Linked DNA regions of Homo sapiens. The protein of the gene in region 1 binds, or shares a complex with, the protein of each later gene. Each region holds a gene or a part of one and is shown on either strand. Other genes may lie near its edges.

Evidence for each region.
Region 2: LSM8 (region 1) and SNRNP200 share a complex: the UniProt entries of both Homo sapiens proteins name them as parts of the U4/U6-U5 tri-snRNP complex.
Region 3: LSM8 (region 1) and SNRPD3 share a complex: the UniProt entries of both Homo sapiens proteins name them as parts of the U4/U6-U5 tri-snRNP complex.

The regions. Positions count from the first base shown.
Region 1 is NC_000007.14:118,201,045-118,204,570, forward strand, and holds the end of LSM8 (LSM8 homolog, U6 small nuclear RNA associated), read left to right. Parts: 3' UTR 1-2,991; downstream 2,992-3,526. UniProt on the Homo sapiens protein: Plays a role in pre-mRNA splicing as component of the U4/U6-U5 tri-snRNP complex that is involved in spliceosome assembly, and as component of the precatalytic spliceosome (spliceosome B complex).
Region 2 is NC_000002.12:96,295,393-96,299,046, reverse strand, and holds part of SNRNP200 (U5 small nuclear ribonucleoprotein 200 kDa helicase), read left to right. Parts: intron 1-79; coding exon 80-232; intron 233-344; coding exon 345-444; intron 445-626; coding exon 627-763; intron 764-1,326; coding exon 1,327-1,410; intron 1,411-1,510; coding exon 1,511-1,684; intron 1,685-1,976; coding exon 1,977-2,114; intron 2,115-2,355; coding exon 2,356-2,511; intron 2,512-3,388; coding exon 3,389-3,559; intron 3,560-3,654. UniProt on the Homo sapiens protein: Catalyzes the ATP-dependent unwinding of U4/U6 RNA duplices, an essential step in the assembly of a catalytically active spliceosome. Plays a role in pre-mRNA splicing as a core component of precatalytic, catalytic and postcatalytic spliceosomal complexes.
Region 3 is NC_000022.11:24,565,872-24,569,525, forward strand, and holds part of SNRPD3 (small nuclear ribonucleoprotein Sm D3), read left to right. Parts: intron 1-2,112; coding exon 2,113-2,305; intron 2,306-3,654. UniProt on the Homo sapiens protein: Plays a role in pre-mRNA splicing as a core component of the spliceosomal U1, U2, U4 and U5 small nuclear ribonucleoproteins (snRNPs), the building blocks of the spliceosome.

The DNA.
Region 1 (3,526 bases):
ATCACTCATAGTTACTAAAAATGCAAAAGGCAAATTTGAAATAACTATAAAAATAAACCTTTAATGAACTTTTTAATATGCAATACTCAATTGTAAATAACCATTATCTTTACTGAATCAGATGTTTCATTAACTGTTAGCAGTTATTTCGAGTTATTTATATATCACAGAATTTTGAACTAAAGATCATCTAGCTGAATTTCCTTTATATTAAAGAAGAGGAGAAAATCTTAATACTAAGTATGTGTGAGCCTGGAGCTGCCATGGAGCATGTAGAGAGAGTCTCCTAGTTGATACCAACTCAGGAAAGCAGAATCAAGCAATAAAGAGACATTTTGGGCCTGATGACATCATTTCAGCACCTGGATCCAGCGATGCCTAAAGATGTGACTCCTAGACTTTTCACTTACATGAGCCAAAACGGTTCCTTTGCATCAATAAATCGCTCTGTGATGCATTTTATAATGTACAACCAAGAATCTCAATATTTATTATTTTGCATTAAATATCAGTAAGTTTGATATAAAAAGCTCAGTAAAATTCATTAATTTGAGAATGTGTCTATATCATAGTAAAGTTTTAAACCTACATAATTTTCAATATTTATACCTTTTACTGCAAAAATAAAAATGAGTTTATCCTTGCCCTAAAGCTGTAAAATTAAACTCTGTACAATTCTAGTTATTTGAAATATAAAATAAAATTATTGGTCATTTCATGTATACATTTGTGGTAACACTTTAACTTTTTCCCTGTAAGGCCATCTTTTGTATGTTTCTGTTTCCATCAAGCAGGCTTTTAATGCAACTTTATCTTCTGGGTTTCCCTAGTCATAATTAAGGGTTTGGCCCTAGTTCACAAGTAATCTTCCAGCACAAATTTTATAAACAAATGCCCTGTGAATCTGCATGGCATAAATCAAGTCTCTAGATCCTGATCACTTCTATGTGAATTTGTAATATTCTGCTTTTGGACTTGTAAGACCAAGAGCAGACTCCCTAAACACAGAGGAGGCAGTAATTTAGGACAGCTTAAACATTCTGGCTGACTGCCTCATCAATGCTATTTAATAACAGAATTCTGGGGATGTCTTGAAATAGATACATTGGCAGTTTTTTTGTTTTTGTTTTTGCTTGTGTCACACATAATGCTGATGAAGAAACCATGAAGTGTCATATGAAAGGAAGTTACGATTATTATTGGTGAGTACATCAGTTAGAATGGTATTTGGCTATAAGCACTGGAAACTCTGACTGCCAGTGGCTTTAACAGGCAGGAGGAGTTCATTTATCTCGAGAGAAAAGAACAGAAAAGTGAAAAGCAAGGCAGTTCAGACTGGGGCACCTACTCAAAGAAGTGACCCAGTACCCAGGCCACTATTTTCTCTTTGCCATCCTTTTGTTCTAATAATTTGCCTGTCATCTCGTGACTCATATTTTCCATCTAATTAGAATAAAGAAAGATGAAATAGGAAAGTGAGATTATCATATGGGAAAAATAAATGCTTTCCCAACTATAACCAGCAGACTATACTGGCAAAATATACTGCTTGAATGCCATTGGCCAGATCTTTGTCATATGGTTACCCTAACTACAAGGGAGGCTAGGAAGGTGAGGGATTTTTTTCCTTTTATAGTGACATTTTGCCACTCCAAATAAAAAAAGGGTTGCTGTTAGGAAAAAGAGAAGAATGGGGATGGGGTGAACAACCAACAATGCTGCCATTGTGCTAGTATAGAAGCAAGTATCTCAGAGGCAGGTGAAAACAACTTCTATGCCCAAACAGAATTCTTTTTTATCTCTGATATAAAATGCAGAATATGAATTTTAATAAATTCCCCAGGTGAGTCATATGCACATTAAAGTTTGAGAAGCACTGATCTATACTGTCTTTCTACACACTTTTTTACCTTACTTTATCCTTCAGGATTCTGGCGTCAAGTCCCTCCCTATCAGTCTTTAAAAACTGTAGCCTTAAATCAGTAGGGATATAGAAGACATGAACAATACTTTCATCCATCTTGACCTAACTGCCATTTATAGAACGTTCTATCCCAAGACATCAGAATATATATTCTTTTTAAACATTTAATGAAAGGATTTAACTCCCAAACTCCAAAGCAAGATGTTCTAAGAAGACTCATTTAAAAAATTAATCTCAAAAAACAGATTTTAAATTGTACAGGAGAAATGCTTATATGAGAACAGAATTATGGGGCACTCTGAATACTAATTTAAGAAAGAAATATAAACCCCTTTTAAAACTCACATAATTTTCCCATTTCCCTTGAAGAAGATACTAATATTTCTGATATCATATAGGAGTAAAAATTGCGGGGAGGTCCTAATATCCAATATTAATAGAGCTGTGATTATTCAAGCTGTAGACTTAAATTTTTTAAATAGAGTAATGGTTGTTTAGTAGAGATTAATATCTAAATAAGGAAAATGAAGAAAGGGACTAAAAATCAAGTAAATAGGATAATTGAGTTTCAATGGGCAAGAATTTTTATATCATGATTTTACCACTCTGAATATCAAAGTCAGTGATGTCTCCAAAAGGCAAAGGGAAGTGTACCAATTTTTGGAGCACTATAAAAAGTGAAAAGTCATCTGCCAGATCTAACATGGTATACTCTAATGGAAAAATCATCAAGATTCTCTTCCTTTTTATGATTCTATAGTAACAGTTTAGTTGAGAAAATAAATCATAATTTGTGATTTCAAACATTTAATATGTGCACATGTATATTATAATATACTCATCCTTTATATTTATCATGCTTTTTTGAATAAATTTGCCACCTTATTGCATATGAAGAATATCTCCATATTCTTACAGCTGTTTTTCTTGGTTGCTTTCTAATTCCTTTCCTCCCTTATTGGTTACCTATGAATTGCTCAGTTCTAACAATGATTTGTAAATTTTAATACTATAGATATATTGCTGTTAATTATTACACCTAAAAATAAATTATTTTACAGAGGCTACTAAGAATGTCCATGTTTTTTTCTGAGATTCTTGCCATATTTTAAGGGTGATATGTAATTATGGGGATAACGGATGGTATGTAAAAATAGCAAGGACACACTTTTTTAAAAAAGAAAAGTTTACATTTGAAGGAAGCCCTGGACTTTGATGATTTAAGAAGAATTTTAATTATTGTCCTCAAGCAAGATTCAATTTTCTGGTTTGATGGGGCTATATTTTTCATTTACTACAGTAAAAAATAAAGCATATGAAACTATAAACAAGACACCTGCATGTGTATGCTTATCATTGCACGATTCACAGTAGCAAAGTCATAGAACCAACCTAAGTGTCCATGAGTGGTTGATTTGATAAAGGAAATATTTCATATATACATATACATATACACACACATACACACATATGTAACATTTTTGTATATATACACAATAACATTTACTGTTTACACATTGTATATAGTGTATATATAGAGTGTATATATAATGTGTGTGTATATATATACACACATTCCATGATATATAATATATAAAATAT
Region 2 (3,654 bases), on another chromosome or scaffold:
GAACTTGGTTGCAGGGTGGTGGCAAAGTGATCGAGGCTGGCAGAGACCTGGTGAGCTAAATGCCTGGTTACTTTTATAGCTCGTAGCCTCAGGTGAACTGATGAGTTCCAAGAAGAAGGATTTGCACCCTCGGGATATTGATGCATTTTGGCTGCAGCGGCAGCTCAGTCGTTTCTATGATGATGCCATCGTGTCGCAGAAGAAGGCAGATGAAGTATTGGAGATTTTGAAGGTATGGCCAAGATGACAATAGTTGTATATTTAGTGTATCTTAGCACATGGGGACAGCGTATGAAGTGGCAGATGGCTTTGGCCTTAATGGTGGTGTTACCTGCTCTCTGCAGACGGCCAGTGATGATCGGGAATGTGAAAATCAGCTGGTTCTGCTGCTTGGTTTCAACACCTTTGATTTCATTAAAGTGTTGCGGCAGCACAGGATGATGAGTGAGTATATGGTGGGGTCTTCCTGCAGAGTGAGTACATATGTGTGCATGTGTGACATAGAGATTCTGTTGTTTTCACAGCCTAAGTGCTTGTTTCTTTTATTTTTCTTCTTTCTACCCTGAGGATGGTTTTTTGCCTTATTTCCTCCTCCTCACTTCCTTTGTTCCTTTTGTTGTGGGTAGTTTTATACTGTACCTTGCTGGCCAGTGCACAAAGTGAAGCTGAAAAGGAAAGGATTATGGGAAAGATGGAAGCTGACCCAGAGCTATCCAAGTTCCTCTACCAGCTTCATGAAACCGAGAAGGAGGATCTGATCCGAGTAAGGACTGGGTTGGTTTATCTGTCTGATTTCTGAGCTAACGGTGGCTAGAAGATTGCAGCATGAAGCTAAATTCATGTTAAAAGTGGAAGTTGAAAAAGTAATTTCCTAAATTCTTTGGGGTTTATCAGTGCATACAGGTTAGAATCAACACATCCACATTGGTTTGGTCATGAGACCAGTGACCTGCTGCTATCTTTCACCAGCACTGTGGGGACCTTTATTGTTTATTTACACAGTAAATCCATGGTGTTTACTAAAATAGAGTAACAGAACACATGTACTTGCTTAATGGAACCCACCCTTCGACCCCTCAGGGGTAGCCCTTGGTACTTAATTATAGAACGTGTATTTGTGGCATCCTTGTACTGCGCATTGCCCCTTTAAAAGTGTTTGTTTGCTTTGATCATTCTGGTGGTCCCCATGTAAAGCACTGTCTTTCTGTTTCACGACTTACTAGTCAGCACCTGTGACTCAAGTATTAGCTAAGCAGGGGCAGAAAAGGACAAGAACCTATGATACTGATGAATTGTTTTTGTGATTTTTATCTTTGTCCACTACAGGAGGAAAGGTCCCGGAGAGAGCGAGTGCGTCAGTCTCGAATGGACACAGATCTGGAAACCATGGATCTCGACCAGGGTGGAGAGGTAGGATCCAGGGCGATTTATTTCCCAGGCCTTGATGGATGGAAAACTCACTTGCTCGGCTTGCTTACTTCCTTTGTGTTTTTGTCTTTCACATTCCCAGGCACTGGCTCCACGGCAGGTTCTGGACTTGGAGGACCTGGTTTTTACCCAAGGGAGCCACTTTATGGCCAATAAACGCTGTCAGCTTCCTGATGGATCCTTCCGTCGCCAGCGTAAGGGCTATGAAGAGGTGCATGTGCCTGCTCTGAAGCCCAAGCCCTTTGGCTCAGAAGAAGTAAGTGAATTGCTTTCTTCAGTTCTCTGCTCAGTTCACCTCCTGGTTTGGATTTCAACCATTGACCAAAATGTAGCCTTGTTTCATATATAGTTTATTTCAGGGCTGAAAGCTGCAACAGAATTTTCCCATTCTGATTTTGAGCCCAGGGGACAATATTGATCTCTGGACTGACCTTTAATGGAAAGTTATGCAAAGAGATTGCCAGGGAACAAAATCCTGGCAATCCCACAATAACGTTTTGCTCAAGGATGCTGCCAACATGATATTGATGGCACTTCTTTTCTTCTAGCAACTGCTTCCAGTGGAAAAGCTGCCAAAGTATGCCCAGGCTGGGTTTGAGGGCTTCAAAACACTGAATCGGATCCAGAGTAAGCTCTACCGTGCTGCCCTTGAGACGGATGAGAATCTGCTGCTGTGTGCTCCTACTGTAAGCGCCACCCTGCCTGCTGTTTTCTTGTAGAATATGGTGTGGAGTTTCCGTTGCAAGATTGTTTTTTATTTCCACCCCCACCCCCTAATTCTTTGTCCTTTGATGGAAGAGAGGTTAAATAGTAGGATAAAGTGCCCAGGACAAGCTCTATTCTCTATTTGGGAAATAAGCCCATGGAAGTTAGGGCAGTGAGAATAACCAGGTGAATAGGCGTTCTCATCCCTGACCTCTCCCGTAGGGTGCTGGGAAGACCAACGTGGCCCTGATGTGCATGCTCCGAGAGATTGGGAAACACATAAACATGGACGGCACCATCAATGTGGATGACTTCAAGATTATCTACATTGCCCCCATGCGCTCCTTGGTGCAGGAGATGGTGGGCAGCTTTGGAAAGGTGAGGGAGTAGAACTTTCCTGCAGAGGATACTGGGTGCACCTATGAAAGTGTTGTGGACAGGCCTGGACCTCACCGCTTCTTGTATTAGGGCATCTCTGGCATGCCTCCTGGGATTGTTGTTATTTTTTATTTTTCTCTCCCCATTTCCAAGATGGAACTTAACCCAGGTACAGAGTTTCTGAAGTAAGAATGTCCTGAGCCATCTTTTACAAGGGTTAGCATCTTTCTTTCATCCTCTCCATGGCAATTTTCTGCAGTTCGTATCATTTGTGTTATTGAAGTGTTTATGAAACATCAAATGGATGTGGATGATAATAGACCTAGTGGTGTATTGTAGGTCTTCTTATCTACAAGTTGCCATTTCTTCCTCTTGTGTACAGAGTTCCCAGAGGTCTTTTTTTTTGAGACAGGGTCTCGCTGTCGCCCAAGCTGGAGTGCAATGGCACAATCATGGCTCACTGCAGCCTTAACTTCCCAGGTTCAAGTGATCCTCCCACTTCAGCCTCCCTGGTAGCTGTGATTATAGACATGTACTACTAGATTAGCTAATTTTTATATTTTTTGTAGAGACAGGGTTTCACCATGGTCTAGAACTCCTGGGCTCAAGCATTCTGCCTGCGTTGGCCTCTGAAAGTGCTAGAATTACAGGCATGAGCCACCATGCCTGGCCCCCAGAGATCTTTTGTCTGCTTTATTTGCCTGAGTTAAATTTGGATTTGTTTGAGGAAGATATGTTCATAAGATCTGATTCGCCTTGTATTCACCTGATGGGTTGATACCTGCTCCCAATGCCCTACACTCCAATTGCCCAAACAGAAAGCATGGTGTCCAGGCCCCTTCAAGCATTCCTGCCTGATGTAGTTTTCCTCCCACAGCGCCTGGCCACTTATGGCATCACTGTTGCTGAACTGACTGGGGACCACCAGCTGTGCAAAGAAGAGATCAGTGCCACTCAGATCATCGTCTGCACCCCCGAGAAGTGGGACATCATCACCCGCAAGGGTGGTGAGCGCACCTACACCCAGCTGGTGCGGCTCATCATTCTGGTGAGTTGGGAGCAGTCGTAGAATATAGAGTCCAGTTGTGTCAGGGCGGGTTTGCTGGGTTTTCATGCGAAATGTTTCTTTGCTGCCTTTTCTGT
Region 3 (3,654 bases), on another chromosome or scaffold:
ACTGGTCTCAGGTGATCCACCCACCTCGGCCTCCCAAAGTGCTGGGATTACAGGCATGAGCCACCGCGCCCAGCCCCAAAACACATTTTAATTGTCAGTCAGATTCAGGTGAGCCTGAGTTGTATCCAGTTTCTGTCTTGGGTAGTCTGACCATAAACCTGGCGTTCATTTGTGGCACTAGAGGTTATGGTATTCTTCAGGGGAAGAAAAGGATTGGTAAGGACTTGGGAACTGGATGAAAATTTAATAACAGGCTGGGAGTGAGGAGCCTGGAGCAGAAGGTTTATGAGAAACTGGAGCCCTGTTGCCCCTGAAGGTAGAACAGGGATAGTGGGTAGAAGCTCTAGAAACCATTCCTCTAGAAACTGCTCATATACAACAGGGGCGGCCCCAGAGCATAGTTTTGTTTGTTTTATTTTTGAGAGGATCTTGCTCTGTGGCCCAGGCTAGGGTGCAGTGGCTCCATCACAGCTCCCTGCAGCCTCGACCTCCCAGAACCAAGTGATCCTTTCACCTCAGCTTCCCGAGTAGCTGGACTACAGGCACATGCCACCACACCCAGCTAATTTTTGTAGAGATGAGGTCTCACTGTGTTGCCCAGGCTGGTCTCAAACTCCTGGGCTCAAGTGATCCTCCCACCTTGACCTCCCAAAGTGTTGATATTACAGACATGAGCCACCACACCTGGCCCATAGTTGTTCTTTTCTGAGTGTTCAAGCAGAGGCTGGGTGGCCAGTTAGCACTTGAGGAAAAGAATGAATGAGTATAAGATGGCAGCTAGCCAGACAGAAATCTGCAGAGACAGCACATCTTTCTACAATAAGGGCTGACCCATTCTAAATAAATTATAGTTCTCTCTCTTCAGAAGGTTCATACAATAAGCTGCTTTTTCTGTAAATGTGGTGCTTGTTGAGGTTGATGCTGGCAGATTGGTATCACCCTCCCATGCCAAGCTGGTCTCACCTTCAGGCTCCCCATTTGTCCATCCTGCAGTCTATCCTTGTTGCCACATTTATCTTTCCTGAGTGCTGCCTTAACCCTATTGATCTTTCCTCTATCGACAAACTTGACTGACTCCTTTATCTGAAGTAACGACCCCGTCCAGTGTCATTATTCGACTGCTCTGGTCCTCACATCCTGTAGGCTCCTGCCCAAGTGCCTGCTCTTTTCCTTGTGCAAGCTCTTGCCTCATAACCCTCCAGTAATTTCAGGCCCTTTTTACAGGCCTTGTGGTACCACCTCCATTTCTCAGTCCCTAGTCACTCAACCTAGAGGGTTCTGTCTCACCTTCTAGAGTATGCACTCTGGAGGGTCAGAACCACATCTGGTATATACTTGTGACCTTCATGGTGCCTTTGAAATCTGAGTGCCAGGCAGTGCAGGGGAAGACAGTTTGGACCAGCAGTTTGAAGCTGTTTTCGTTAGGGTTTAGCACCTTCAAGAGCTCTTCACATCTTTGCTCAGCAGGCAGTGCAGCACAGCCAGGGCTCTGAAGCTAGGCCAGCTGGTTCGAATCTGGAGTTCCCTGCATTCCAGCTGTTTGACCTGGGATAACTGCTTTGGTTTTTTTAACATGTAAAGATGGGAGCACTCGGCTGGGCGCAGTGGCTCACACCTGTAATCCCAACACTTTGGGAGGCTGAAGCGGGCAGATCACCTGAGGTCAGGAGTTCGAGACCAGCCTGTCCAACCTGGTGAAACCCCACCTCTACTAAAAATACAAAATTAGCCGGGCATGGTGGCGCATGCCTGTAATCCCAGCTACTCAGGAGGCTGAGGCAGGAGAATCGCTTGAACCCGGGAGGCAGAGGTCACGGTTAGCCGAGATTGCACCATTGCACTTCAGCCTGGGCAACAAGAGTGAAACTCCATCTCAAAAAAAAAAGGGGGGGAGCACTCATACCCACGCTGAAGGTGTTGTGAGGACTGTTTAGGTAAAGTGCTCAGTGCAGTCCCTGGTGTACACAGTTAGTACCGATGATTGCTGGGTAATTCACCAGCTTTGTCACAATGTCAGTCTGCTTTTCTGGACTTCCCCCTCCCACCAGTCAAGGCCCTCCCCACCGCTGGTGCTGTTGACCGTTAACTTATTAGCTGGTGATTTCCTTCCAGATGTCCAACATCACAGTCACATACAGAGATGGCCGAGTGGCACAGCTGGAGCAGGTATACATCCGTGGCAGCAAAATCCGCTTTCTGATTTTGCCTGACATGCTGAAGAACGCACCCATGTTAAAGAGCATGAAAAATAAAAACCAAGGCTCAGGGGCTGGCCGAGGAAAAGCTGCTATTCTCAAGGCCCAAGGTAGGTGCTTTTCATGCACAGGTTTTAAAATATAGGTTTGTCTTGTGTCTTGTAGAAAGGGGCCCTATTACTGCCTGGAGACAGAGAGGGTTTGACCTCTGCTCTCTCCACACCCACCACCCACTGCCACCCCTTCCCCTTGCAGCGTGGAGTGATCCTGTGAGGCCATTATTTTATTTTTTTGAGACAGAGTCTCGCTTTGTCACCCAGGCTGGAGTGCGATGGTGTGATCTCAGCTCACTGCAACCTCTGCCTCCCAGGTTCAAGCAATTCTCCTGCCTCAGCCTTTCAAGTAGCTGAGATTACAGTGCGCACTGCCCTGCCTAGCTAATTTTTTTATTTTTAATTTATTTTTATTTTTATTTTATTTTTAATTTTTTTTAATTTTTTTATTTTTTTGAGATGGAGTCTCGCTCTGTCGCCCAGGCTGGAGTGCAGTGGCGTGATCTCGGCTCACTGCAACCTCCGCCTCCCGGGTTCAAGCAGTTCTCTGCCTCAGACTCCTAAGTAGCTGGGATTACAGGCACCCGCCACTGCGCCGGGCTACTTTTTGTATTTTTAGTAGAAACGGGGTTTCACCACCTTGGCTAGGCTGGTCTTGAACTCATGACCTTGTGATCCACCTGCCTCAGCCTCCCAAAGTGCTGGGATTACAGGCGTGAGCCACTGCGCCCGGCTTATTTTTATTTTATTTATTTATTTTTGTATTTTTAGTAGAGATGGGATTTCACCATGTTGGTCAGGCTGGTCTTGAAGTCCTGACCTCACATGATCCACCTGCCTCGGCCCCCTGAAATGCTGGGATTACCAGTGTGAGCCACCGCACCTGGAGAGGCCCATCTTTTCTAGAAGTTCTGTGTGAGAGGTGTGGGATCGCTTGCCCTTGTCTAGTTTGCCGAGCAGACACAGCCCGGAGCAGATGAGCTGACTCGAGTGTGAGGGCAGCATTTCCTAGCGAGACTGGGTCTTATGGATGGACACCAGCATGTACTTAGGGAGGTCTGATAGTGGAGCTCCGTTTTCAGAAATAAAGCCACCTTTTAGTACATTCCAAAAGTGGGACTGTCCTTTTCGCAGTCCCCTAGTCTGGTCTTGCTTCTTGGTTAGCCTAATTTGGTTTTATATTTAGGTTCATGAAAGTTCTGTCATGTTGATTAGACAACAAAGTAATTGTGGCCCTTGGAAACTGTCTTAGTGTTGGTAAAAAAGGTTTGCAGCCAAGGAAGGCACTGGATTCTTCATTGGTATCTTTAGCTGCTGTACATGTTTTATATGTGTGTGAGGAAAAAAGTCAAACTGTGTTTTTCCTCTGCTCTCACAACACAACAATCAACAAAGACTTCTGTGAC